7 linked regions of the Homo sapiens genome follow. The protein of the gene in region 2 interacts with the protein of the main gene of each other region in a pairwise test. Each region holds a gene or a part of one and is shown on either strand. Other genes may lie near its edges. The genes, in order: CRLS1, F2RL1, QSER1, CNN3, OSTC, ATP2C1 and TMEM161A.

Region 1 (3,500 bases), on a different chromosome or scaffold from region 2:
AGAATACTAAGAATTCTGTTGCCTATCCACATAGAAGTATCAGTTGGGCAGTTTAGTAGTTTGGAGTTGGAGGAAGTCATCGTTACAGAGAGAGAAATTTGGGAGCTGTCAGATATAGATGGTTGGATCTGGGTAAAATCATCCAGGCTGAGGTAACAGGAATGAAGGGTCAGAGAAATGAGCAACAAGTAAAGCACCAGAAAAGAAGCCAGTCAGGAACCCTGGGAAGGAATAGCTGGCGAGGAAGAAAATTAGGCAGTGAGATTTCCCAGAAAGTGGAGAAAGTGCTTCAGTTGTGTCGAGGTCAGGTACTCTAAAAATGCGGAGTTCCTTGGTGACCTTTATGAGCCTCACCTCTGGAGGGGTGGGGACGATTGGAGTGGGTCGATGAACACATGTGAGATGGTAATGACATTGGACGTTCCTTTGAAGCAGTTTTGCTTTGTAGGGGGATAGAGAAATAGGATCACAGAAGGGTCTTTTAAAAAGATATATACTGGGGAATTATATCTATGTGTATATAGATAGATAGATATAAAATCCTATATATAAAAATATATGCTGGAGTATATGTATATACTGGGGAATTTTTGTTTGGCCTTTTTTTTTTTTTTTTTGAGATAAATCTCGTGTTGCCCAGGTTGGCCTTGAACTCCTGGCTTCAAACGATCCTCCCACCTCAGCCTTCCAAGTAGCTGGGACTATAGGTGTGCCACTGTGCCCAGTGAATTTTTGTTGTTAGTTAACTGATTAATTAAATGATCAGGTAGAAAGATTAAATGAAAGGGAGAGATGGATGATGCAAGGGGAGATGGGGAAGAAGGGAGGCAGGTCACAGAAGGTGAGAGGGCATGGGAACGGATGAAGGAAGGCAGAGAGAATGAATGGATGCAGGTAGGTGGGGGATTTGATGATGGGAATATGAGGATGGGCTGACTACGGTTTTCTTTTTCCTTAAGGAAAATACAGACATGACCATGAGCGAGAGGGATGGAGTTAGGTCTGAGGTGAGAGCAGAGACAGTGTGGAAGAGACAGTGTGAAAAGAGAGGGTAAATATGGTAAACAAGTGTGGGATTGCTAGGCAGTATTGGGTGCCCATGGGAGATTTGTGGTCATCAGTTTGAAGTGAGACCAGTCTTCCCATTTGTGTGTTTTCCTTAAGCACTATTCAGCTCTTAGGTGCAGGCCCAGAGTACATGGAGAGTTGCTTTTAAGCAGTGTTGAAGGAGAGTGGAGTGAAGGGGAGTTACAGATGTTTATAAAGGAATGATGTTGATGACCTTGGAATCTAGTGTGGATTAGAGGAATAGTGAAGATGAGAGGGTGATGATGGCGAAAAAGTGAAAGGTTAAGTTCCCTGAGGTCAGAAACTGAACTAAACCTGATCTTCCAAGGTCCCAGCTCCCCAGGCTAGGTACTTTTCTGTTCGTATGCTTAAGAAGGAAATAGATTTTTTCAGTTGCAATAGCAATAGCTAGTAACTGCTTTTTTTGAGGATTTACTAAGTGCTGAGTGCTGAACAAGTATTAATCACATTGTGTGCTGAAGACAACCACCCCTTTGAGGTAGGTAATTTATCTCTGTTTTACAGATGAGGAAACTAAGGCTTAGTCAGGCCAAATAACTTATCCAAGATCACACAGCTACTAAGTGGCAGAGCCAGGACTTGAACAGCTTCTGTTCTGCTACAAAGACCACATTTTTTTTTACCACGGTCCTGGACTACCGCTGTCTCCTCTAACTCATTGGAATACTTGAGATATGGACAACTTACTTGTTCTTTAAAATGAACCATGATTAATTGCGTCTAAATTAATCTTTTTTCCCCTTAGAAATAGTATTAGAGAACTCAAACATTTGTTGAAACTTGAAGTTAAATGAGTAAAAGCCAGGAAGGGACTTGGATAAACCAGAAAATATCTGCCTTGTTTAATGTGAATAGACAGTACTTGATTTCAGTCCATTTTGTGGCCCCAGAGTGGCCAGACCGCTCCCTTCTCAAGTTAGGATGGAGACCTGGGTTTTTATGGGAAGAATTGAATACTTACATGTTGATAACTAATTACAGTTTTTAAAAGCTCTGATAGGTCAAACAGAACCAGCTTACAGGCTCCATTTGGCCCACTAGCAACTAGATGTGACTTATGCTTTAAATGGTTTATTTTTAATCACAATAATATAAAAATAAATAATTTAAGTATCAGAATTTTAACTAGGCCAGGTAGAGAGGATTGAGTTTTCTATTCAAATGTAGGTAATGCAGATACAGTCAGAGTATGGAATAAACAGTGGTATTGAGCAAAATGAGTTGAAAAACAGAAAAATGGTAAGTTTTAACAGAGTTGGATTATATTATCCTAGTCCAGGCTCTGCCGTTCATGCTTTCTTTGAGTTTTCTTTGGGTTCTTTATAGCTGTAAATACATCACTAACCGTATCTCTAAATGTGTATTTGGGTTCATCCCACAAAGGGGCCTTGTGAAAATACCGAGAAATAACCAGAAGGACTTGAGGGGGAAAGAAAATAAATGTGCATTTATTTTAAGACCAGTTGCTAATTTAAAAGCGAAATGTATACCAGCAAAAGAATGAGAATGTTTGGGGGTAAGAAACAGAAGACATTTTGTTAACATTTTATGAGAGTATAATTGTTATTCTGGTATATCTTAAGCTTCAGAATATCTGCTTTGTTCCTGTTATGACATTTATATATATAAAAAAAAACTTCTATTTTCAGTTGGATGGATTTATTGCTCGAAACTGGGCCAATCAAAGATCAGCTTTGGGAAGTGCTCTTGATCCACTTGCTGATAAAATACTTATCAGTATCTTATATGTTAGCTTGACCTATGCAGATCTTATTCCAGGTAAGAACGCGTCATGCGTACTTTTGAATAGCACAGGGAAGAATGACATTAGTCAGCTTAGGATTTCTCTTGAGAGACAAATAATTTTTGTTCCAAAAATATAGTTTTCAACTTTAAACTGTTTCCCTAATTTTAAACTGTTGAACTGTTTTGTCAAACTACTTGTGGATTTTAGAATTTATGTCCTTGTTTTACTAGTAAAATCAGTTGCTTTCCTAGTAAGATTGTTTAAAATTAAAATTGAATAAATATTTCACAGTGCCAATTCATATTACTCTGAAATTTTTTGGTGATACATTATGTATTTTTAGTGCCTAGCTTTTCAAAAGCAATTTAGTTTTCCTACGTTTATTATCTTTATTAATATCGTTTAATCATAAGTGAGAACTCTGAAATTCTGAAGATGTCTATAAAATTTCACATTATGTAGACCCTATTATGCAATTTTTAAATCATATATATAGTTTGTACATTATATGAATACTTTTTCTGATAAGATTTCATGATTTTTTTGCTTTGTATTTTGCATGTGCTTTTCTGATTGTTCATTTTCTTCTTCAGTCGTATTTCTCAGTTTTTCTCCCTCAGACCAAGTTAAACTGTTTTTTTCCCAAGAGCTAGGAATCATATCT
Region 2 (3,393 bases):
TGCTTGAACCTGGGAGACGGAGGTTGCAGTGAACCAAGATCGCACCACTGCACTCCAGCCTGGGCGACAGAGTAAGACTCCATCTCAAAAAAAAAAACAAGTTATTTTTATGGTTTGTTTGAATCAGGATTGAAACAAGGTACACACATTATATGACTGATATGTCTTTTAAATCTTCTACTCTATAAATTTCACCTCCACACCTTTTTTTTACCTTTGTTCTTCTTCTTCTTCTTTTTTTTTTTTTTGAAGAGATGGCATTGTGCTATGTTGCCCTGGCTGGTCTTGAACTCCTGGTCTCAATCAATCCTCCTGCTTTGGCCTCTCAAAGTGCTGGGTATTGAAGGCATGAGGCACTGTGCCTGGCCCTCTTTCTTATTTTTTGCCTTATAATTTATATTTTGTAAAAAACAGGTCCTTTATCCTGTAGCAGTTCCCAGAGTCTCAATTTTACTGACTACATTTGTGGTGTTGTTTAACACTTTGCCCCCTTCATTTCCATTAATTTGGTGTTGGATAATTTCCACAATAACTGCACCAGTTGCTCAGTCTATAACACTAATCAAGCACTGAATCCAACACCAAATTAATTTCCAGTATGTTACTTTCTAATTGTTACATACATTGTCATTCTAAGTTAAGTGGCCTGTGAAATCAGTGTTAAAGAATAATAACTGGCTTTTTATAATAATGGAATAGAATACAATAGAAAGTATCAGTGCACCCTATGTAATAAGAATAATTATTATTTTGTGAAACGTTTTTCCACCATGGATATGTGTATTGGGAACTGGGTTAGTATGTGGAATATGGTTCTTAGGGGTTATGGTCAAATATTTGAAGAACACTGTAATATGTAGGAATTTTTTTTAAATTTAAAAACAACATATGTTCTTTTTGAAGAATTATATAAAAAAAATAGAACCACTAGAAATAGGACTATCCTAAGCATATTAGTTTCTTGTGGCTACCATAGCAAATTGCCATAAACTGATGATGTAAAACAACACATTTATTCTGTCAGTTCTGGAGACCAGAAGTCTGAAATCAAGGAATTGGGGCCACAAGCCCTCCAAAAGCTCTAAGGGAGAGTCCATTCCTTGCCTTTTCCAGCTTGCAGTGGCTGCTGGCATTTCTTGGCATTCTTGGCCTGTTCCTTGATGTGACTCCAATCTCTGCCTCCATTCTCATGTCACTCACTCCTCTGGCTTCTCCTTTTCTGCGTGTTGCAGATCTCTTTCTGCTTTTCTCTCTGTTTTGTTGTTTGATACAGACTTTAACTCTGTCGCCCAGGCTGGAGTGCAGTGGCGCAATCTTGGCTCACTGCAACCTCCGCCTCCCAGGTTCAAGCAATTCTCCTGCCTCAGCCTCCCAAGTAGCTAGAACTACAGGCGCCTGCCACCACGCCCGGCTAATTTTTGTATTTTTAGTAGAGACAGGGTTTCACTATGTTGGCCAGGCTTGTCTTGAACTTCTGACCTCGTGATCCACCCACCTCAGCCTCCCAAAGTGCTGGGATTACAGGCGTGAGACACCACGCCAGGCCTCTGCCTTTATCTTAGAAACGACACTTGTCATTGGATTTAGGGCCCGCCTAGATAACCCAGGGAGATCTTCTTATCTTAGGATCCTTAATTCTATCTGCAAAGACATTTTTGCTAAATAATGTTCACAGAGTCTGGCGATTAGGACATAGACTTCTCTTTTGGGGGCACCACCTTTCAACCCACTACACTAAGTGAAAAGTGAAATATTGATCTCTACATCCCCCAACACTCCACCCAGGCTAGCATCCCAAATAGGGAAGCATTAAGATGTGAAAAATTCTGCGGAACATTAGTGTAAAGCTTCTAGTGGAAAAATGATGACCAAGCATAACATTATGAGATAAGAGCATGAGTAGGTTTAATATCCCCCTGGTATACGGCAGTGCAAGTATTGCCCTGTCTTCTCTGCTTGGTGAGGCCTACTTTTCCCCAGAATTAGAGTAAAATTATTCAGTATCCTTATATTGTCCTTACTTACTCCTGCAGGTTCATGAATACTTAGGGGCAGAATGTAGGGAGGACATGCCATTCATTTCTTTGTGGTTTTTAGGTCAACTTCATAATATAAGAGAGGGATAATAAGTTAGCTTGTCATGCTACATGCTTGAAAGTCTGTCATCAGTACAGCCACCTATCCAGGCCAGACGGTTTCCCTGCCAGTTGGCCTCCATGGGACATTCTCCAGGAAACCAGCACATGAGCAGGGAAAATCCCTGCCATTGTTGAGGCTATCGTTGTGGGTGAAAAGGGAATGTCCCTTGTGGTCCTGGAATCTCCCTGTGGCAAGCTCTGAATAGGGTATGATGAATTGAATAGGCCAGGAAGGATCCTGGCTCAGGGCTAGAGTGGGATAGAAGGCCATTATGAAGTGAGAAATTAGAAAACTGGTGTCAGGATGGGGATCGCTATTTTACACACTTGAGAATTTAGAAAGGAATTACTGCACATTCCTAAACTGATTTTTTTTTTTTTTTTTTGACTGAGGCTCGCTCTGTCACCCAGGCTGAAGTGCAGTGGCATGATCTTGGATCACTGCAACCTCCACTTCCGGGGTTCAAGCGATTCTTCTGCCTCAGCCTCCCAAGTAGCTGGGATTACAGGCGCCTGCGCCTGGCTAATTTTTGTATTTTTAACAGAGTCAGGGTTTCGCCATGTTAGCCAGGCTGGTCTGAAACTCCTGACCTCAGGTGATCCACCTGCCTTAGCCTCCCAAAGTGCTGAGATTACACGCATGAGCCACCATGCCCAGCCAAACCAAATTTTACTAATTGATAAATCAAAGGACTGTTGTTGGTCATGTGATAAGAATAGCTAGAGCTGGGCGTGATGTCTCACACCTGTAATTCCAGCACTTTGGGAGGCCAAGATGGGAGGATCACTTGAAGCCAGGAGTTCGAGACCAGCTTAGTCAACATAGCAAGACCCCATCTCTAAAAAAAAAAAAAATAATAAGTAAAATAAAAAGAATAGCTGGGGACTAATGAGTGTGGACAGTTTGTAAAAATAAATTGAAATATTGTTAGTCTTCTTTATATTCCTAGAAATCGATGCTCCACATGCATCCCACAACTCCTTACAACTCCCCGATACAAAAATACTCACTGTAAGAAAAAAACCCATAAAACCAAACTAAACCAGACAATAGAAATCCCAATAATCTCATTACACAAAGAAAAGCCCCTATAAGCATTTTGTGTAATCCTCTAATAGTACATTTCTGTTTTCATCTAAAGTACTTTCATTTGAGGCTGGGCTCAGTGGCTCACACTTGTATCTCACCACTTTGGGAGGCTGAGGCAGGAGAATCTTAAGGCCAGGAGTTTGAGAACAGCCTGGGCAACATAGT
Region 3 (4,225 bases), on a different chromosome or scaffold from region 2:
CAAGAAACTGCCACAAAGGGGAACAAAAACATTCAACTGATATGTGCATTATGAAAAAGCTTTTTAAAATGGTATAAAAATATAAATAAGCTTCTGAAGTGTAGAATATTTAGACTTACAAGGCATATTTCAGATTTGCCATTTTTGATATAACTGAAATCAAAGGGAATATTTGCACAGTTTGAGGAATAAAATGAGGTATAATTCAGAAGTGTAACTCTGTACAGATGGCCTGATCCCAATACAAGATGTTAACAAAGCAGGCTGGCGGGGGAGGGGGGTAAACCTGCATTTTCTATGCTGTATTTTAGCTGATTCCCCCCACCGCTTATTTTTTAAAAAAGCAGGGGGAGAGGGCATGAGGGGTAATATTTAAGATTCAATAACTTCTAGTAAACAGAAAATAAATCTCCTTTAGATTATGTGTGCCAAGTGAATCTACTTACTGTTTTCAAGTGTGTTTGGGAAGTCATTTCGTGTTACTCTGATAAATAACATTTGGAAAATATGACAAGTAGATTTTAGTTTCTTGCCTCAGAAGTATTCTACTAAAAGAAGTAACTAGGTAGTATTTCAGTTCCATTTACCTAATAAATATTTTTCATTTAAAAGATAAAAAATGCGGCACAAATACCTATCATGCTGTTCAATGATGAGAAAGTAATTTTCATTTGTAAATTATCCTAGTCAATGCAAAAAGCTACTTGAAAAAGATAGTCAAATTACCATCAGCAAGAAATAATGGGTGAAGTGCCAAACGTCTTTCATGAAACTCCTTAAAATGGCTTACTTGTATGTAATACAAAATTATGGCTATTTCTGAAAGGTTTCAGCATTTAATTACTTAGCTCCAAATTGGCACATCACATTATTTTTGTTAACTCCCAAGTCTTGAAAACAAAGGGCCTAAAATTTTCTGAGAAAGCTTATATTCCTATTCTTGAAGCAAATTTTTCTCATTCTTTCACAATCGTCCCAATGGACAATCTAAGACAAAGACCAGCTACCCTTCACACTTATTTGCTCAATCATGAACGTAGAACTTTCGTAAAAACAAAGAAGATAACCTGGAACACGGTAATGTATAAACTTAAAACAAAAGTTCACTTCTGTCGTGAAAAATAATGAAGAAATCTGATGAGATCATAAAGCCACGAAGCTTCCTGTTGGTAGCTGAGGATGAAGTCATTAGCAACCCAGGATTCCCTGGTCCATGTAATCAGAAGCTGCACCTACCAGATTCTGTATTGTTCGGGAGAGGTGGCTTTAAAACACCCCGCTCACCAATTCTCCAAACCAGACCACGCCTTCCAGTTATCATTCAAATGGGACCGTTTCACAGTGTGGCACTACTACACATTTCCCGCGAGCTTAAATATCAAGTAGGAGTCAAAATTTTAGATTCCCTTGGTCATGCAAGATGAACTCTTGAACCCCACGCTACATAATGCACCCGGACCTTAAAGGCCGAGATGGAGAAGCATGCTTTGGTTCTTCAACCTTTACGGCCTTCACTACCCCCACCCCAACCCCCGCCCCATTTCTTCCCAACTCTCAGTCACCCCGAGGCATAGAAGGCAAAGAAAGATTCCTTACTTCCTGCTGTTGTTAAAAGGGGAGGAAACCTAAGAGCAACTTTGAACGCGTGGAAGAAAAATCGCCTAAATCTTGGCCACCAGCGCAAACATATGTCACCCGGCCCTGGAGCCGCGTTCGCGCCCTGCCGGGCCCCCTCTTCTGCCCTGCGCCCCGGGGATTCTCCCGTAGCCCAGCCCTCCCGGGCCCCCCAGTGTCTCCGGGACGCGGTTCCGCGACTCTTCCTCTCCCGCCTCCGCAACCCTCACACGCCGGAGTCCCCAAGACCGCATTGTCGGCCACCCAGGTTCCAATACAATGGATCGCCACTGCCCCAAACTCTCCGGCGCCCCCTTCGGACCCCCGGCGCCAATCCTGGGTCTCACAGATCCCGAGTTCAGCCACGAGCCCAAACTTCACCATGTGAGAGCCCAGGACCCAAGAGGTGACGGAGCCCCACGACTCCCGCCCAGCTATTCCTTCACCCGCCGTCCCCAGGCGCGAATCCTGCACCGGGCGCCCCCACCTACCCGCGACCACCCCGTAGGAGTCATCAGCCGCCTCCCCCGAGCTGGCCGAGGGCGAGCGGAGGGCTCCCCGCCCGGCCCAGACCTCTGGGCGGCGCTGCAACCGAGCGAAGGCCCCAAACGCATCCCCGGCCTTTCCTGGTCCACCGCGACCCCGCCGCCCACCCTCCCTACCTGGCCTTGAGGCTGGGGCTGCTGCCGCTACTGCAGCTGCCACTGCTGCAGCTGCTGCTGGCGGCGGCGGCGGCGGCTCGGGGTTCGTACGCCCAGGCTGGGGCGGGGGGCTGCGCAGCGGCGCTGGCGGGGACGGGGGCGGCGGGGGGCGCGGGCGGCGGCGGCGGCGGCGGCTCGGTGAAGCCCGAGGTCGCGTAGTTCCTGTCCATCGTGGGGGTGGCGTAGGGAGGGCGGGCAGCAGCGGGGGATCCTCCAGGGCTCCGTGTGACGGGGGCGGGCAGGGAGAGGGGGCGGGGGAGGAAGAGGGGGCGGCGGCGGTGGAGGGAGCTGCCCCCTCACATGGCCCCGGCGAGCAGGCGGGAGAAGGGCGCGCTGGCGAGTCTGGGCCGCAAAGACCCGGGCCGCGGCGGGCGGCGAGGCCCCAGCTGGGCGTCAGGGAAGCGGAGGCACCCGCGGCCGGGACTCGCGGCGACGGCGGCGGCGGCGGCGGCCGCTGCGCCCCATGTTGGTGGATTTCCCAGGATGCACCTCCCGCCCCCCTCCGCCCCGCGGCCTTGCCCCGCCTCCCCTCTGAGCCCCGCGCTTGCCGCTCGCGGGGCTGGCGGGCGGCCGCGAGGCCTCCGCCACCGCAGGACGCTTCGCGAGGGACAGTTGGGGCCGAGAAGGCGCGGGTCCTGCGGGGCCCGGCCGACTTCAGGGACTCCGAGGGGCGCCCGCCAGCCGGAGCCCGCGAACCGCAGACTTCCCGCCTTCCGCAGCCCGGAAGGGAGCTGTCCGCACTCGCCGCGGCCCGCGTGGGAAGGGACCGCGCCTGGCTATCGCCCCGCGCGGGGGAGGGGAAGTGGAGTGGAACCCAGCGTAGGGCGCTGCTCAGGGGTAGCCGGGTCAACGCTTTGCTTGGAGCTCACTATTTGACCCTTCGGGTTATTTTGAGGGACTCCAGTACTCAGTTCCCTGATCGCGATTTCTTTCTCTGCGCCCCAATCCAGAAACAGCTGAGCGAGCTCTTTTGCAGTTCCGCTTACTCCCTCCCCAAAGCTTGCTGGGCTAGAGGACCCTTTTCCTGCTGTTAGGGGAGATTTATATTCAAAGAGATTCAAATTCAAACGTATTATTTTCCAATCCTCGCTGAAAGGGCCTTTCCCAAGGGCTCTTATTAACTGTCCCCACCCCCACCTTGGGGATTTTTCTCGCTCTGGGTTTCAGAATCTTCTATCCCAAGATAGATAACCACCTCTTCATTGATTAATCCAACTACCATCTGGATGACTTTAATTACAATAAATTTAAACTCACCATGCACTCTGATGTTGAGGGGTTTTGTTTGAGACTTGGAACTTCAGCAGGACTCTCTCCCCAAACATTTCCTATCTGATCTCCAAGCTGCTTGGTGTGCGGTAATTTAATGACTATTTGCGGTTCTTCTGTTGCATAGCAGAGTTGTATTTCTTGTAATAACTCACAAGTATTGAAACTAGGGAATCGTACAAATCATCGTTTGGCCCTTGGGCCATAAATTTAAAGGTTAAAATAACAGTAAAATTTCTATTTAATGACCACCTCCTTTTAAAAATCAATATTGGTTTAACACCTATTATGTGCTTAGCACAGAAATCTATCCCTCAAGATAAGCATAACATAAAGGTTTAAGCAAATCAGCCGTAGTGAAAGACCTAATAAACTTGATACGCTATCTCTGATGACCATTGAAAAAGTTTAAACTTTGGTAATAATCTGGTGTTGGATCTGCTATGCCTTGCGAGATTAATTTTGTTCTGGAAGATCCTGTTTTCCTCCTGGCGCCTACATCCTTTTGTTCCTATTCATTCCTTTTTGCAAGTCTTTCTGCACCTGTGATGCTTGGAGCCTGGTCCCCGGGTGGGGAAGCAAGGAAGTGAGTAGTCGTTATTTACACATGAATTCAAACGTGTAGGCACAGCGACTTTGCC
Region 4 (3,500 bases), on a different chromosome or scaffold from region 2:
ACCCAGGCCCATAGCAAAGATAGATGGAGCCAGGCATGGCGCCAAGGCAGAACTCCTCTCACCCTAGCATATTATGTTTTTCTTCAGATTGATCAAAATATATCTCCTAGTTGAGAACGCCCTCACTTTTGGGGAAAAAAAAAATCACCTTACAATTAGTATTTGCTTTCCATAGTTAATGCTTGAGGAGTACTCTTTTCTCCTTTTCTTCTTTGCCTATCCCCTTTCATACCACCACCTCCAGTTTATATAGTGAGAATTTATTTTTCTAGGCACCCAGAACAAGACCCCAGTGTAAAAATATAGTCAAGACTTAAACGTGTCTATCGGCTGGACGCAGTGGCTCACGCCTTTAATCTCAGCACTTTGGGAGGCCGAGGCAGGCGGATCACCTGAGGTCAGGAGTTCGAGACCAGGCTGGCCAACATGGTGAAACCCCGTCTCTGCTAAAAACATGAAAATTAGCGTGGCGTGGTGGTGTGTGACTGTAATCCTAGCTATTCGGGAGGCCGAGGCAGGAGAATTGCTTGAACTCGGGAGGTGGAGGTTGCAGTGAGCTGAGTTCACGCCACTGCACTCCAGCCTGGGTGACAGAGCAAGACTCCATCTCAAAAAAAAATATTTTTAAAAAATGTGTCTGCCAATTTTTGTTTTATTTTCTAAAAGTGCCATAAAAATGGGTTTATTTGATGTGTTGGAGGAGATATATTATCCAAGAATATTTATCTGAGGTATAATAGGAGTAATGGAGGCAGGGGGTGGTGGCTCATGCCTGTAATCTCAGCACTTTGGGAGGCTGATGCGGGAGGATTGCATGAGACCAGGAGTTTGAGACTAGCCTGGAAAACAAATTGTATTTAAGACTGTCTTTTATAAACTAACCTCCAGGCCAGACTTGATCCATGAAACACTGCAAAGTTAGTCGTCTTAATATGAAAATATAAACTTACTGGATTTTCTTTTGTAATTCTGGTTAAGTAAATCTACAGTTCAAATCAATTATCCATTATTCTGTCAAAGCTGTAGAGCCATTTCTCCAACTTGGGTAAAGGGTGCAAAGGATCAAGAACTGCCATCTCCCTAATGCCACAGTAATTTAGTGAAATCATTTGCCCTCTCTCAGTCAAAGCAGAAGCTTCATGCCTTGGCGTGGCGGGGAGGGGAAAAGAGGCCCTGAAAACAGCCCAGGAGTGGTCTGATTATGTGCCAGGGGATCTCTCAGGCTCAGGTGCATGGTGAGCCTTCAAGAGGGGGACCTGGAATGTAGACATTTCCACCTACTTGACCTGGGAAACGGGATGTTTTTCCTACCTTGAGAAGTTAAAAGGCTGTTGTGGCTTTTGATGGACACAAAAAGGAACTGTGATCAAGTGTACGCTTTGAATCTGTTTTTTAAGACTCAGCGTTGGTTTTCACTGTTGGGTGACTTACAGGTAAGCTGGCCAGGTTCGTAAATGTCTGTCCTGATCCTGGTGATCAGGCTCTCTCCCTTGGAAAGGACCTGAATGCAGCCCACAGTCCTATATGCTCTGGCACTATGAACCTAGGGCATTTCCCACAGTTCTGCTTGGTTCCTCCGTGAGTGGTGTAGACTGGAACTTGTGGGACTTCTTTGTGACTAAAATGTCAAGATGCCATTTCATTTCTTCCAATGATTAAACCTCCCTATGTCTTATGGACACAGCAGACATTTCTACCTTCATTCCCATTTCCAATGATGTAATTGATTCCCAAGCTCATGATCTCTATCTCCTGAGCATTTCCTATGTATACTTGGCATTTTCACCAGTGCTGAATGAGAAGACAAATGATACTGGATCTTTCCTTCTTCCCAGCTGTGGGTTTTTTTTTGGCAGTGGGGCGGGAGACAGGGTCTCACTCTGCTGCCCAGGCTGGAGTGCAGTGGTGTGATCATGGCTCACTGTAGCCTCGATCTCGTGGGCTCAAGTGATCTTCCTACCTCAGCCTTCCAAGTCACTGGGATGACAGGCATGCATCGTCAAGCCCAGCTGAATTTTTTATTTTTAGTAGAGACAAGGTCTCTCAATGTTGTGCAGGCTAGTCTCGAACTCCTGACTCAAGAGATCCACCCAGCTCAGTCCCAAAGTGCCGAGATTACAGGTGTGAGCCACTATGCCTGCCTCAGCTGTGTTCTCCATAACCCTGATTGACCAGCCACTTTAAGGGGACTCCAGGACAAGGGATAGCTTAAGAACTTGGGCATGTGATTTTTTTCACAATATTTTGTTTAAATTTTATTTTTTCAATTATTTTAAATTGAGGTCTGGTCTTATTAAAAAGGGATCTTTCAAAACTTATGTTTAATAGTTTTACCATGTATAATAGCATAGCATTTGTGTTGGTAAGTTGGCCTTTATTTTTGAATTCTGCAAGTAAAAAGTTAAACTTTCTTTTAGTTTTATCACATGTTTGGGTGTCAGGTTCAATTCTAGATACTAAGAATCTGAATGAACTAGATGCTTTTCCTGCCTGTAAGAAGTCTAATAGGATAGAGACTACATAAACAGAATTTAAATATTGTACAGTAATTAGTACTGAGGAAAGTGTGTGTGTGTGTGTTTAGTATATAGTGTGTATTTGGCTGAATAGAAGGCAAATACCAGAACTTTCCAGTCAACAAAACTATTGGAATGTTATGTATTGGCCAGGTGAGATACTCTGTAAAATAACTGCATGTGTCAGAATCCTTTCCCCAGCTTTTTTTGGAATAGGGTGATTAATGACTTAAACCTTAAAGTTTGAGTGCCATATTGTAACATACCATTAAATCCTTGTCACTTCCTGTGGATCATGAAATCTGATGTCTCTTGATTGATGTTCTCTCCTTGTCAGTCCCAGCCTCTCCATGGTCTGTTCAAAATTTTGTATGACACGGTCTTCACCAAAAATTTGTTATTAGTTACTGAAGTTGTAACGGTTAAGTTTGCCATTGAGATCTATTGAGTGTCATTTACTACACTTCACAGCTGTGGTCTTAATGGCTAGTGAAAGCAGAGCGCGTTGTGAGTCGGCAGTTTCTGATGCTTTTGTGAAATTCTTCTAAAGTGAGTTAACCTGTATTTCAGATTGCTTCCAAGTATGATCATCAGGCAGAAGAAGATCTTCGCAATTGGATAGAAGAGGTGACAGGCATGAGCATTGGCCCCAACTTCCAGCTGGGCTTAAAGGATGGCATCATCCTCTGCGAGTGAGTTACAGCCCTCCAGAATCTGTTTCTGCTCTTCCAGTTCTTTCCACAGCCTTCTCTCTCACTCTCCTTCTCAGCCCAGGGTGTCAGACCTTGATATTCTACAGATATCTTTAATGCTTTCCCTTACTGATGCTAAAGGGAGCAACTTGATATTTCAATCCTTGTTTTTGTGTGCCAGTAAATAAGATGTCTCTCATATTTTTCTTTTCAGACTTATAAACAAGCTACAGCCAGGCTCAGTGAAGAAGGTCAACGAGTCCTCACTGAACTGGCCTCAGGTAACAGCCAA
Region 5 (3,500 bases), on a different chromosome or scaffold from region 2:
TAAGAGGGTTGTAAAAAATAATCACTTTATTTGATATTATAGTTGTAGATATGGAATATATTTTAATGAAAAACTAAAAAGAAAATGCCACTCAACATCATTGGTATAGCAATAGGCCAGCAGGAAAAAAAATTCTGTGATAAACTTGTCTCTTTAATACCAAGAAGAAATTCTAGTCCAAGCTTCAATACGCTTCCTGTTTTTTCACTAGATATTTCTTTTACTGCTGCTCTTCATTCTTTTCCACATTTCATATTAGAGGATTGGTACAGCCTTTAAAACTTCATTGACAGGAGCAAATCCAGTATCCACTGATTTCTTCTCAAAGGCACTCTAACCCATCAGATAGCCCCTGCAGAAATATAATTATAAGCACAAAAAGTGAAAAGAATTGTTTTTATATTCTCTTATTATCATAGTATTTCAAAATGCCAAAACAAATTTTATGATATATCAAATAACAATCCAAAAATATAATTGCGTGATTCTTTATTATGGTCCTTATTTCATATTTTGCCCCCCTCACCCCAATATACAAATAAATTACTGAGCCTCAGTTCTACTATCCTTCCCTCTTTTTCCTTTTTTTTTTTGAGATGGAGTTTTGCTCTTGTCACCCAGGCTGGAGTGCAATGGTGTGATCTCAGCTCACTGCAACCTCCGCCTCCCGGGTTCAAGTGGTTCTCCTGCCTCAGCCTCCCAAGTAGCTGGGATTACAGGCGCGTGCCACCACACCTGGCTAACTTTTGTATTTTTATAGAGACAGGTTTTCACCATGTTGGCCAGGTTGGTCTGGAACTCCTGACTTCAGGTGATCCGCCTGCCTTGGCCTTCCAAAGTGCTGGGATTACACGCGTGAAGCCCGGCAAAGTTTTTTTTTTTTTTTTGAGATGGAGTTTTGCTCTTGTTGCCCAGGCTGGAGTGCAATGGTGCAATCTCGGCTCACTGCAACCTCTGCCTCCTGGGTTCAAGCGATTCTCCTGCCTCAGCCTCCCAAGTAGCTGGGATTACAGGTGACCGCCACCACGCCCAGCTAACTTTTTCTATTTTTAGTAGAGACGGGGTTTCACCATCTTGGCCAGGCTGGTCTCAAATGCCCGACCTCAGTTAATCCATCCACCTCGGCCTCCCAAAGTGCTGGGATTACAGGTGTGAGCCACCGCGCCTGGCCCTTCCCTCTTAAAGTTACAAAGCAGTATGCCAAACAACACAGAATAAGAAAAGGAAGTAAAGAAAAGAAAATGATATCTAAAAGTTAAAGTTAAGAGTCAGAATCAATCTATTTTAGGCTCTCAGAAGTGCAACAAAATCAAAATTTTTTTTATGTAAAGAAACTGGTTTGGATTTCTAAAAACTCTAATATTACCAGAAGAGAAGTGGGAGAATCAGAAGCTATTCAGGACTGGGAGGTGAGCCTCTGAGACTTCAAAAAAGTGTGCACAAACATCTGCCCCTGAACCTCTAATACTTCAGGAAATGTCTGGATAACAGTTAGGAGCTTTAGCTGTACCTGCTGGTAAGGTCAAACTTCATGCTGGTCAAACAGGAGATCCTTTTATTAAATGTGCAAGTTAGGCCCTGAAATCCCCTTTAAATTAAAGCATTAAATCTGGTGTTATAAAAGTTCCAAACCTTTCCTTTGGCAATAAACCCTTAAAGTCTATTATTAATTAAGAATCTACAGGATCAGGAAAAAAAAATGGAAAAATTATGTACAAGTATCCACATTAAGAAAGGGTTGGGCTGGGCATGGTAGCTCATGCCTATAATCCCAGCACTTTGGGAAGCCGAGGTAGGTGGAGCACCAGGTCAGGAGTTCGAGACCAGCCTAGCCAACATGGTGAAAACCCACCTCTACTAAAACTACAAAAATTAGCTGGGCGTGGTGACAGACGCCTGTAATCTCAGCTACTTAGGAGGCTGAGGCAGGAGAATTGCTTGAACCCAGGAGGTGGAGGTTGCAGTGAGCCAAGATTGTGCCATTGCACTCCAGCCTGGGCAAACAGAGTGAAACTCCATCTCAAAAAAAAAAAAAAGAAAAAACAAAACAAAACAAAACAAAACACAAAACATCCTGGCTAACATGGTGAAACCCCGTGCTCCAGCCTGGGCAACAGTGCAAGAATCCGTCTCAAAAAAAAAAAAAAAAAAAAGGTTTACAACACCTTATACTCACTGACGGCTTCAGAACGCCTCTTCTTTTGACCCTGCTTCTACCACTTACTGCATGAGCCTGGCAAACCTCACTCAGTTTCCTCATCTGTAAAATGGAGTTACCTCAAAGGGTTTTAAGGATTATAAGAGAATCTACTCATATAGTAATTGCTACTCGTAGTTACATGCACTTCACAAATGTTAGCTGCTATTTTTAGAGTCCCAAGTTTCTTCACTGGTAACGTAAGATTTAAAAACTACTTGACAATACTGAGGTCTCCTCCAGTGCTTGGCACACAGCAAACACTCAAAAATGTGACTTCCCTCCCTTTCAGCTTCTGAACTCACTTGACTCCCTGTATGATTAGACTTATGTTCAGCCAATGCAATCAACCTAGAACTCACACACTCTTCTTTCTGCTGTATCAGCCTGGCCAATCCACACACTCTGAGTAAAGAGAACTTTCATCTAACACAACCACCTTGACAACCAGATACTTCTCACCTCCTCCCAAATCCAAAACTGAACAAAAATTTAAAAATAAAAAGGTTTGGCTGGGCACAGTGGCTCACGCCTGTAATCCCAGCACTTTGGGAGGCTGAGGCAGGCGGATCACGAGGTCAAGAGATTGAAACCATCCTGGCCAACACAGTGAAACCCCGTCTCTACTAAAAATACAAAAATTACCTGGGTGTGGTAGTGCATGCCTGTAGTCCCAGCTACTCAGGACGCCGAGGCAGGAGAATCACTTGAACCTGGGAGGCGGAGATTGCAGTGAACCGAGATCATGCCACCGCACTCCAGCCTGGCAACAGAGCCAGACTCCGTCCCCCACAAAAAAAAAAAAATTAAAAATTAAAAGGTTCTTTGGATATATACATTGAATTTAAAGACCTCACATAAATTTGCTACTATAATGCCTGATGTGTCACAAAAAGGATACTTTAAAACATAAGCTTCACAAGAAAAAAAAAAAAGGTTCAAGAAGATTTTAAGCAAGCATCCACTAATATCTGCACTCTGTAGTAGAAGTTACCCAACAGCTAGCTTACACTATGAAACAAGAGTACTAAAGACTCATTAGGAGTAACTTCTTGTAATTTGCATATACCTATATGTGAATATACACTTTGTACTCTATCTCTTAATATAGCTATATATTATGGTATCCTTCCTTGTAACTAGTGGGTGACCCATGCTTGTCAACCTATATTTAGATAGAAAAGAATATTTAAATAGACATGTCCTGTTCAAAGCTGCCAAACTTAAAATAGTTTTACCTTAAGGACAATTTGGGAGATACTAAGAAATATTATAATGTTATAACGATACCATGTTAGAAAAA
Region 6 (3,500 bases), on a different chromosome or scaffold from region 2:
GGTTGAAGTTTTTTCCATTCTGCTTGGTATTTAGTGAATCCTTTCAATCTATAAAGACTTACTTTTTGCCTTAGCTTGAGAAAATACTTGTGTGTCATATCTTATGTAATTTTTGAAACTCCAATTAGTTACAAGTGGTATTTCCTGAAATTATTCCTCTTCATCATTTTATCTCATTCTAAGACTTTTTACTCTTTTTGGGGGGAGACCTCTTTGAATTTATATTACACCCCTACAATTGAATTTTTAATTTCAACAATCATAATCTTAATTTCTAAAAACTCTTTTTGTTCTCTGATCCTTTTCTACAACAATTTATCTCATGGATGCAGTTTCTTCACAAGTCTCTGAAAATACAAACACTTGGTTTTTAAATTTGTCATCATTTCTTCAATGTTTCGTTTTCCTCTGAAATTGATTATTCAATTTCTATATTGTGAACTTTCTCTTTCATGTTGCTAGTTTTCAATTTGACAATCCTTAATTGTATATTTATATATAAAAAGGCAATAATGCATTAGTAATTCCAGACATCTAGTATGGGTTTTCTTCATTACCATATACATACATTTTCATTTTTCTAAGGATAATTTTAATATATGACTTCTGAACTATTTATGTAGCGATGTTATACTCTTATGGGCTCCATGTAATACTGATCTCCATAATAAAACGTAAGCTATGTCCATTAGAGAAATAAAAGAGGCAAAAGAGACTCCAATTATAAAGTATTGAGACTTACCTTACACTAATAGTAAACATTTCCAGGATATCTTTTCCCAGTAACCAGCCAACCAACATGATGATTCCTGAAAGATAATTAAATAGTTATTTTTCCCTTTTACATACAATCACCTAGAAGGAACAGAACAAGCTGAAGGAATCTAAAACGTCCCTTGACAAAAAAGGGAAAGCATATCAGATCACAATTAGAAGATTTTATAAAAATCCATTAAACAGGGGAGGTTAAAGTTAACACTGCTTAATGTGAATGCTGTGCATACTCACATACGTACATGTGTGCACACACACACCACACATGCACACACACACACAGTTTTACTTTTGGTTGACACTGCTCCTACCATCCCTTAAAGCAGTAATATTTTATTATTTTTTTAAAAATTACCAGTATGTTCATACAATGAAAAAAAGAAGGTGGCAGCAAACATATAGGTCTTCTATTTAATATCAAATATGCAAAATTAAACCCTAAAACTTTATTTTCCATAACACAATATCCAGACACTTCTCAGCAAATCCATACTACACACAAAGGGACACTTACGACTTGGCTCAAAAAGTGATGTGCCTTACGTTAAGCACCTACAACTGCATTAACATCTAAAAATCACTACTTTTATGGCATTTCAAAAATTTAAAAATCAATTAAACCAATACTCCTTGCTTTAACCTTTTATCTTTGAAAAGAATAGGGGGAAAGGGGCGCACAAGCAGGTTTGTGAGGAAAAAGCAAACAGATTCACGAGAGGTTTGATAAAATAAGCTATCTCAAGACTGCAAATCAATATGAACATTTAAGACAAGTTTTTTTTTTCATCTTTATATAACTAAAGAATAATTATCCAAATAGCAACCTTCTAAGATCCTATCCCAAATACTATCATGATGAAAGAAATTATGTCCAAAGGATTATACCAGGGGTCAGCAAACTATAATCTGTGGGTCTCCTGTCTGCTTAGGTAAATGAAATTTGTTGGAACATAGCCACACTCATTTATTTACATATTTTCTATGATTGCTTTCATGCTAATGGCAAAGTAAAGTATTTCCAACAGAGACCATATGGACTAAAATATTTACTATCTAGTTCTTTACAAAAAACAAAAAAAAACAATTGCTGACCCCTGATCTAGCTCTTGACCTTGGCAAGAAAAATTATGTCCAATGTAATATACTAACATATAACCAGAGATCGTAAAGTTGAAACATATTTATTACTAAATTTGAAATGGTTTATGGTATAGTGCTAATAGAAACTACAAAGATTTAATTGGCTAGAATGTCATTCGATCTATCAAATTCACTATAAAATTTCTAGAAAATGAGCAATAATCAAACGGAAGAAGTTATGAGGGCATACACACCAGTAAAACAAAAATAACTAAGATAACTTCCTACCTTCTACTTTATGTTTACAATGAAGATAGATGGATAAACAGAATTACTATTTACAAAGTTATTTCAACTAATATTGTATTAACAGAAATATTGCTTTAAAATTGCATTAGTCCTGTAATCCCTGCACTTTGGGAGGCTGAGGTGGGCAATCACATGAGTTCAGGAGTTTGAGACCAGCCTGGCCAATGTGGTAAAATCCCGTCCCTATTAAAAATACAATAAAAAAATTAGCCAGGTGTGGTGGTGCACACCTGTAATCCCAGCTACTCGGGAGGCTGAGGCAGGGAAATCACTTGAACCCCAGGAGGTGGAGGTTACAGTCAGCCGGGATTGCGCCATTGCACTTCAGCCTGAGCAACAAGAATGAGACTCCATCTCAAATAAAAAAATTGTATTACTGACTTTGAAATACTAAACTAGCTGGAATAATTAACACGGTAAGAAAATTAAAGGAGAAAAGACTCCAAAATTAATGCAAGTGCTTAATGTGTGATAAAAACGTGACTTCAATCCAATGAATAAAGACTGGATTACAGAATTAATGGGATAATTAACTTGAGTAAAAAAGTTAAAACTCTGCCTTAAGCCATGTACTAAAATAAATTTTAAATAAAATAGTAAAATGTCAAAAATAAAAAACTATACAACAATGTTTTAATAAATGTTCTTATAAACATGAGGTTGGGAAAATCTTTAGGAACAGAACAAAACCAACTTAATTGCAGAGATTATCAATAGGAGGGTGATAACAGAATCTCAAGGAAAAGGGGATGTTTTAACCCATTTGTGTCTGAGGTTGCAATTTTTTGAATTTTTGCAACCAGACCTTGGCAATGACCTTGAGCAGTAGGATATAAATAAGTCCCACATGCTTAGCATTCCAATAATGGAACACTAGGCATAAATGGTTAATTACATATATTGTCCTCTTACCAAGTTTATTCCACATGCCTCAAAGGCAACTTAAACGGGAAAAAAAAACTTATACAACAAAAAGATTGATAATCTAGTCATATAAAAAGCTTTTATCAATCTAAGACTCAAGACACAAGAAAAGGGACAAAAGAAATCGTTGGCAGGTCATAAAATGAAATAAAAATGATCAACCCACACATGACAAAGCATTCGGTTTCCCTAATAATGAACTGTGAAATCAAATAATGAGAACTCTTTTATTTACAGTTGAAGTTAATGACAATACTTAAAGCTGGCCAAAAATTTAAAAGTTACATGGATCCCCTTTGACTAAATAATTTTATTTCTAAGAATTTTTCCTTAAAAAAGAGAGGTATTTACCAGAAGACACCACACTAAAGAAGTATTTATATGACCAAAAAAAAACCCTCAAAAAATCCTAA
Region 7 (3,500 bases), on a different chromosome or scaffold from region 2:
CTTGGCCTCCCAAAGTGCTGGGATTACACATGTGAGCCACCACACCTGGCCTACATTTTTTTTTTTTTTTTTTTTTTGAGACGGAGTTTCACTCTTGTTGCTCAGGCTGGAGCACAATGGCTCGATCTTGGCTCACCACAACCTCCGCTTCCTGGGTTCAAGCAATTCTCCTGCCTCAGCCATCCAAGTAGCTGGGATTACAGGCATGTGTCACCACGCCCGACTAATTTTGTATTTTTAGTAGAGACAGGGTTTCTCCATGTTGATCAGGCTGGTCTTGAACTCCCGACCTCAGGTGATCTGCTTGCCTGAGCCTCCCAAAGTGCTGGGATTACAGGCATGAGCCACCATGCTCGGCCATCTAAATATACTTAATGCCACTGAGCTGCACATTTAAAAATGGTTAAGATGGTGAATTTTATGTTTTGTCTATTTTACCACAATGAAAAAAAATTCAAAGAGAAAAAAGATTCAAAGATGGGCAACAATGTGAACAGGTATTTCACAAAAATTTCACAGAAGAGACATGAATCATGAATAAACAGGAAAAGGTGCTCAACTTCCCTGGTAATCAGAGACATGCATGTTAAGGCCACAGAGGGCATCATTCCATGTGACGAGGGCTAGGTTGGCAAAAATCAAGCCCTATCCATGGATCTTGATTCATTTAAACCTTACTGCCGCCCCCTTGGGAGATTGGTGCAGTCACTACCCCACCTACTTATTATTTGAGGGGTAGGTTTGCAGGTACTCATATGATTATTTTGCTTTATAATTGACATACACATCTTCTTTGTATATATCAAACATATATAATTTTAAAAACTGAAAGGCAGGGAGAATTGGAGAAGGTAAAACTCAAGCAGTCAGCAGGGTCATGTGGGCCATGGTGAGGGCTATGGTCTTTCTCCTAAGACCGGGGGAGTGTGGTGCCGGGCAGAGAAGTGATGAGGTCCAAATTATATGTTAAAAGGATCATTTAAGAGGCCAGGCACGGTGGCTCACACCTGTAATAACAACAATTTGGGAGGCTGAGGCGGGCAGACTGCTTGAGCTCAGGAGTGTGAGACCAGCCTGGGCAACATAGTGAGACCCTGTTTCAATAAAAATAAATAAATAAATAATTTTTTAAAAAAATGAAAAAAGAGGCCACACACAGTGGCTCATACCTGTAATCCCAGCACTTGGGGAGGCTGAGGTGGGTGGATCACCTGAGGTCAGGAGTTTGAGACCAGCCTGGCCAACATGGTGAAACCCCATCTTTACTAAAAATACAAAAATTAGCCAGGCGTGGTGGTGCACACCCATAATCCCAGCTTGGGAGGCTGAGGCAGGAGAATCACTTGAATGCAGGAGGCAGAGGTTGCAGTGAGCCAAGATCATGCCACTGAACTCCTGCCTGGGTGACAAAAGTGAAACTCCATCTCAAAAAAAAAAGAAAAAAAAAGAGCTATAGCCATGAGTGTCCATCAGAGACAGTGAGAGAGGCAATGTCCTGTCTTCCCCAAAGCCCAACAAGGTTCAGGAGCTGAGATGGTCACTAATGGGGACTGCCTTCACCCCAGGAGCCCACTCCTTTGCCTACTCGTGCTGGACACGGAGCCAGTTAAACCATCTTGGTCAGATTACATGAGGGAGTGACAGCTGCGGTGGCCCCACGTTGGGGGCTGCACTTACCAGGCTCCAGGCCCAGCTCGAGGGTCTCCTCCCGCACCACTTGCACCAGCATGGCCAGCAGCAGGAAGAGGAAGGCAAAGGTGAGGCAGACAGAGCGCTCACCCCCCTCCTCGGCGCTGAAGTACAGCCGTGTCACTGTCAGGAACATCTTGCTGGAGGCTGGAGCTAAGGAGGCCTCAGGTGCCACTGCCCCACTCTGCCCATTTCACCACACTCCGTCTGGGACCCCAGAACTCCAGGGAACAAGCACTGCTGCACAAATAGGCCTTGGGGATGACCTAGAGGAGTTCGGTTTTGGGGTGCTGGATCTCAGATCAGGATGTGGGCTGGGGGTTCCCGTTGAGTGGGAGATGGCCTCATCAGGCCACCGTGTCTGTACAGCCTCCCGCCCTGGGTGACCCTGCCTCTTTCACCCACCTCACCTACTTCACATCCCTTGGAAAAGCAATCAGATATAGAAGGGCTTCATCTCCAATCTGCTGTCAAAATGCAGCATGGGGGCCAGACACAGTGGCTCATGCCTGTAATCCCAGCACTTTGGGAGGCCAAGGCAGGAGGATCACTTGAGCCCAGGAGTTCAAGAGCAGCCTGGGTAACATAGTGAGACCCCCATCTCTACAAAAAATAATTTTGTGGTAGCCCCTGTGGTCCCAGCTACTGGGGAGCCTGAGGTGGGAGGATCGCTTGAGCCCAGGAGTTTGAAGCTGCAGTGAGCCCTGATTGCACCACTGCACTCCAGCCTGCACGACAGAGGGATATCTTGTCTCAAACAACAACAACAGGCCAGGCGCAGTGGCTCATGCCTGTAATCCCAGCACTTTGGGAGGCTGAGACAGGTAGATCACCTGAGGTCAGGAGTTTGAGACCAGCCCTGACCAACATGGTGAAACCCAGTCTCTACTAAAAATACAAAAATTAGTCAGGCATGGTGGCGCATGCCTGTAATCCCAGCTACTTGGGAGGCTGAGGCAGGAGAATCACTTGAACCCGGGAGACAGAGGTTGTAGTGAGCCTAAATCATGCCACTGCACTCCAGCCTGGGCAACAAGAGTAAAACTCCATCTCAAAAAACAAAACAAAACAAAAAACAAAAAAGCATGGGAATCTGGGGAACCAGTGGATTTTAAGACAGGTTTCCCACTCCAAAAGTCACAGGAGTAGCATTCTTTCTGTGCTTCCTCAGACTTGGGTCCCCAAAGTCATGTATTTGCTCTCTTTGGGAGGCCAAGGCAGGAGAATCACTTGAAGCCAATCAGGACCAGCCTAGGCAACAAAGCAAGATCCTGTCTCAACAACAACAACAAATATATATACATGTACATACATACACACACACACATATATATATATATACACACACACACACACACACACACAATTTTTTGGGGGGATGTAGTTTCGCTCTTGTCACCCAGGCTGGAGTGCAATAGCATGATCTTGGCTCACTGCAACCTCCACCTCCCGGGTTCAAGCAATTCTCCTGCCTCAGGCTCCTGAGTAGCTGGGATTACAGGTATGCACCACCACCCCCGGCTAATTTTTGTACTTTTAGTAGAGAAGGGGTTTCTCAATGTTGGTCAGGCTGGTCTTGAACTCCTGACCTCAGATGATCCACCTGCCTCGGCCTCCCAAAGTGCTGGGATTACAGGCATGAGCCACCGCGCCTGGCTAATTTTTGTATTTTTAGTAGAGACGGGGTTTCACCATGTTGGCCAGGCTGGTCTTGAACTCCAGACCTCAGGTGATCCGCCTGCCTCAGCTTCCCAAAGTGCTGGGATTACAAGCATGAGCCACCATGCCTGGAGTATATATTTTTTAAAATT

What was found.
Region 1: the proteins of F2RL1 (region 2) and CRLS1 interact in a two-hybrid assay, tested with the Homo sapiens proteins (one large-scale study listed by BioGRID and IntAct).
Region 3: the proteins of F2RL1 (region 2) and QSER1 interact in a two-hybrid assay, tested with the Homo sapiens proteins (one large-scale study listed by BioGRID and IntAct).
Region 4: the proteins of F2RL1 (region 2) and CNN3 interact in a two-hybrid assay, tested with the Homo sapiens proteins (one large-scale study listed by BioGRID and IntAct).
Region 5: the proteins of F2RL1 (region 2) and OSTC interact in a two-hybrid assay, tested with the Homo sapiens proteins (one large-scale study listed by BioGRID and IntAct).
Region 6: the proteins of F2RL1 (region 2) and ATP2C1 interact in a two-hybrid assay, tested with the Homo sapiens proteins (one large-scale study listed by BioGRID and IntAct).
Region 7: the proteins of F2RL1 (region 2) and TMEM161A interact in a two-hybrid assay, tested with the Homo sapiens proteins (one large-scale study listed by BioGRID and IntAct).

The regions. Positions count from the first base shown.
Region 1 is NC_000020.11:6,012,623-6,016,122, forward strand, and holds part of CRLS1 (cardiolipin synthase (CMP-forming)), read left to right. Parts: intron 1-2,738; coding exon 2,739-2,868; intron 2,869-3,500. UniProt on the Homo sapiens protein: Catalyzes the synthesis of cardiolipin (CL) (diphosphatidylglycerol) by specifically transferring a phosphatidyl group from CDP-diacylglycerol to phosphatidylglycerol (PG).
Region 2 is NC_000005.10:76,829,030-76,832,422, forward strand, and holds part of F2RL1 (proteinase-activated receptor 2 preproprotein), read left to right. Parts: intron 1-3,393. UniProt on the Homo sapiens protein: Receptor for trypsin and trypsin-like enzymes coupled to G proteins.
Region 3 is NC_000011.10:32,891,386-32,895,610, reverse strand, and holds the start of QSER1 (glutamine and serine-rich protein 1), read right to left. Parts: upstream 2,801-4,225; 5' UTR 2,486-2,800; coding exon 2,277-2,485; intron 1-2,276. UniProt on the Homo sapiens protein: Plays an essential role in the protection and maintenance of transcriptional and developmental programs.
Region 4 is NC_000001.11:94,903,111-94,906,610, reverse strand, and holds part of CNN3 (calponin-3), read left to right. Parts: intron 1-3,086; coding exon 3,087-3,208; intron 3,209-3,422; coding exon 3,423-3,489; intron 3,490-3,500. UniProt on the Homo sapiens protein: Thin filament-associated protein that is implicated in the regulation and modulation of smooth muscle contraction. It is capable of binding to actin, calmodulin and tropomyosin. The interaction of calponin with actin inhibits the actomyosin Mg-ATPase activity.
Region 5 is NC_000004.12:108,664,099-108,667,598, reverse strand, and holds part of OSTC (oligosaccharyltransferase complex subunit OSTC), read right to left. Parts: intron 353-3,500; coding exon 334-352; 3' UTR 1-333. UniProt on the Homo sapiens protein: Subunit of STT3A-containing oligosaccharyl transferase (OST-A) complex that catalyzes the initial transfer of a defined glycan (Glc(3)Man(9)GlcNAc(2) in eukaryotes) from the lipid carrier dolichol-pyrophosphate to an asparagine residue within an Asn-X-Ser/Thr consensus motif in nascent polypeptide chains, the first step in protein N-glycosylation.
Region 6 is NC_000003.12:130,956,584-130,960,083, reverse strand, and holds part of ATP2C1 (calcium-transporting ATPase type 2C member 1), read right to left. Parts: intron 810-3,500; coding exon 743-809; intron 1-742. UniProt on the Homo sapiens protein: ATP-driven pump that supplies the Golgi apparatus with Ca(2+) and Mn(2+) ions, both essential cofactors for processing and trafficking of newly synthesized proteins in the secretory pathway.
Region 7 is NC_000019.10:19,128,479-19,131,978, forward strand, and holds part of TMEM161A (transmembrane protein 161A isoform 1 precursor), read right to left. Parts: intron 1,830-3,500; coding exon 1,678-1,829; intron 1-1,677. UniProt on the Homo sapiens protein: May play a role in protection against oxidative stress. Overexpression leads to reduced levels of oxidant-induced DNA damage and apoptosis.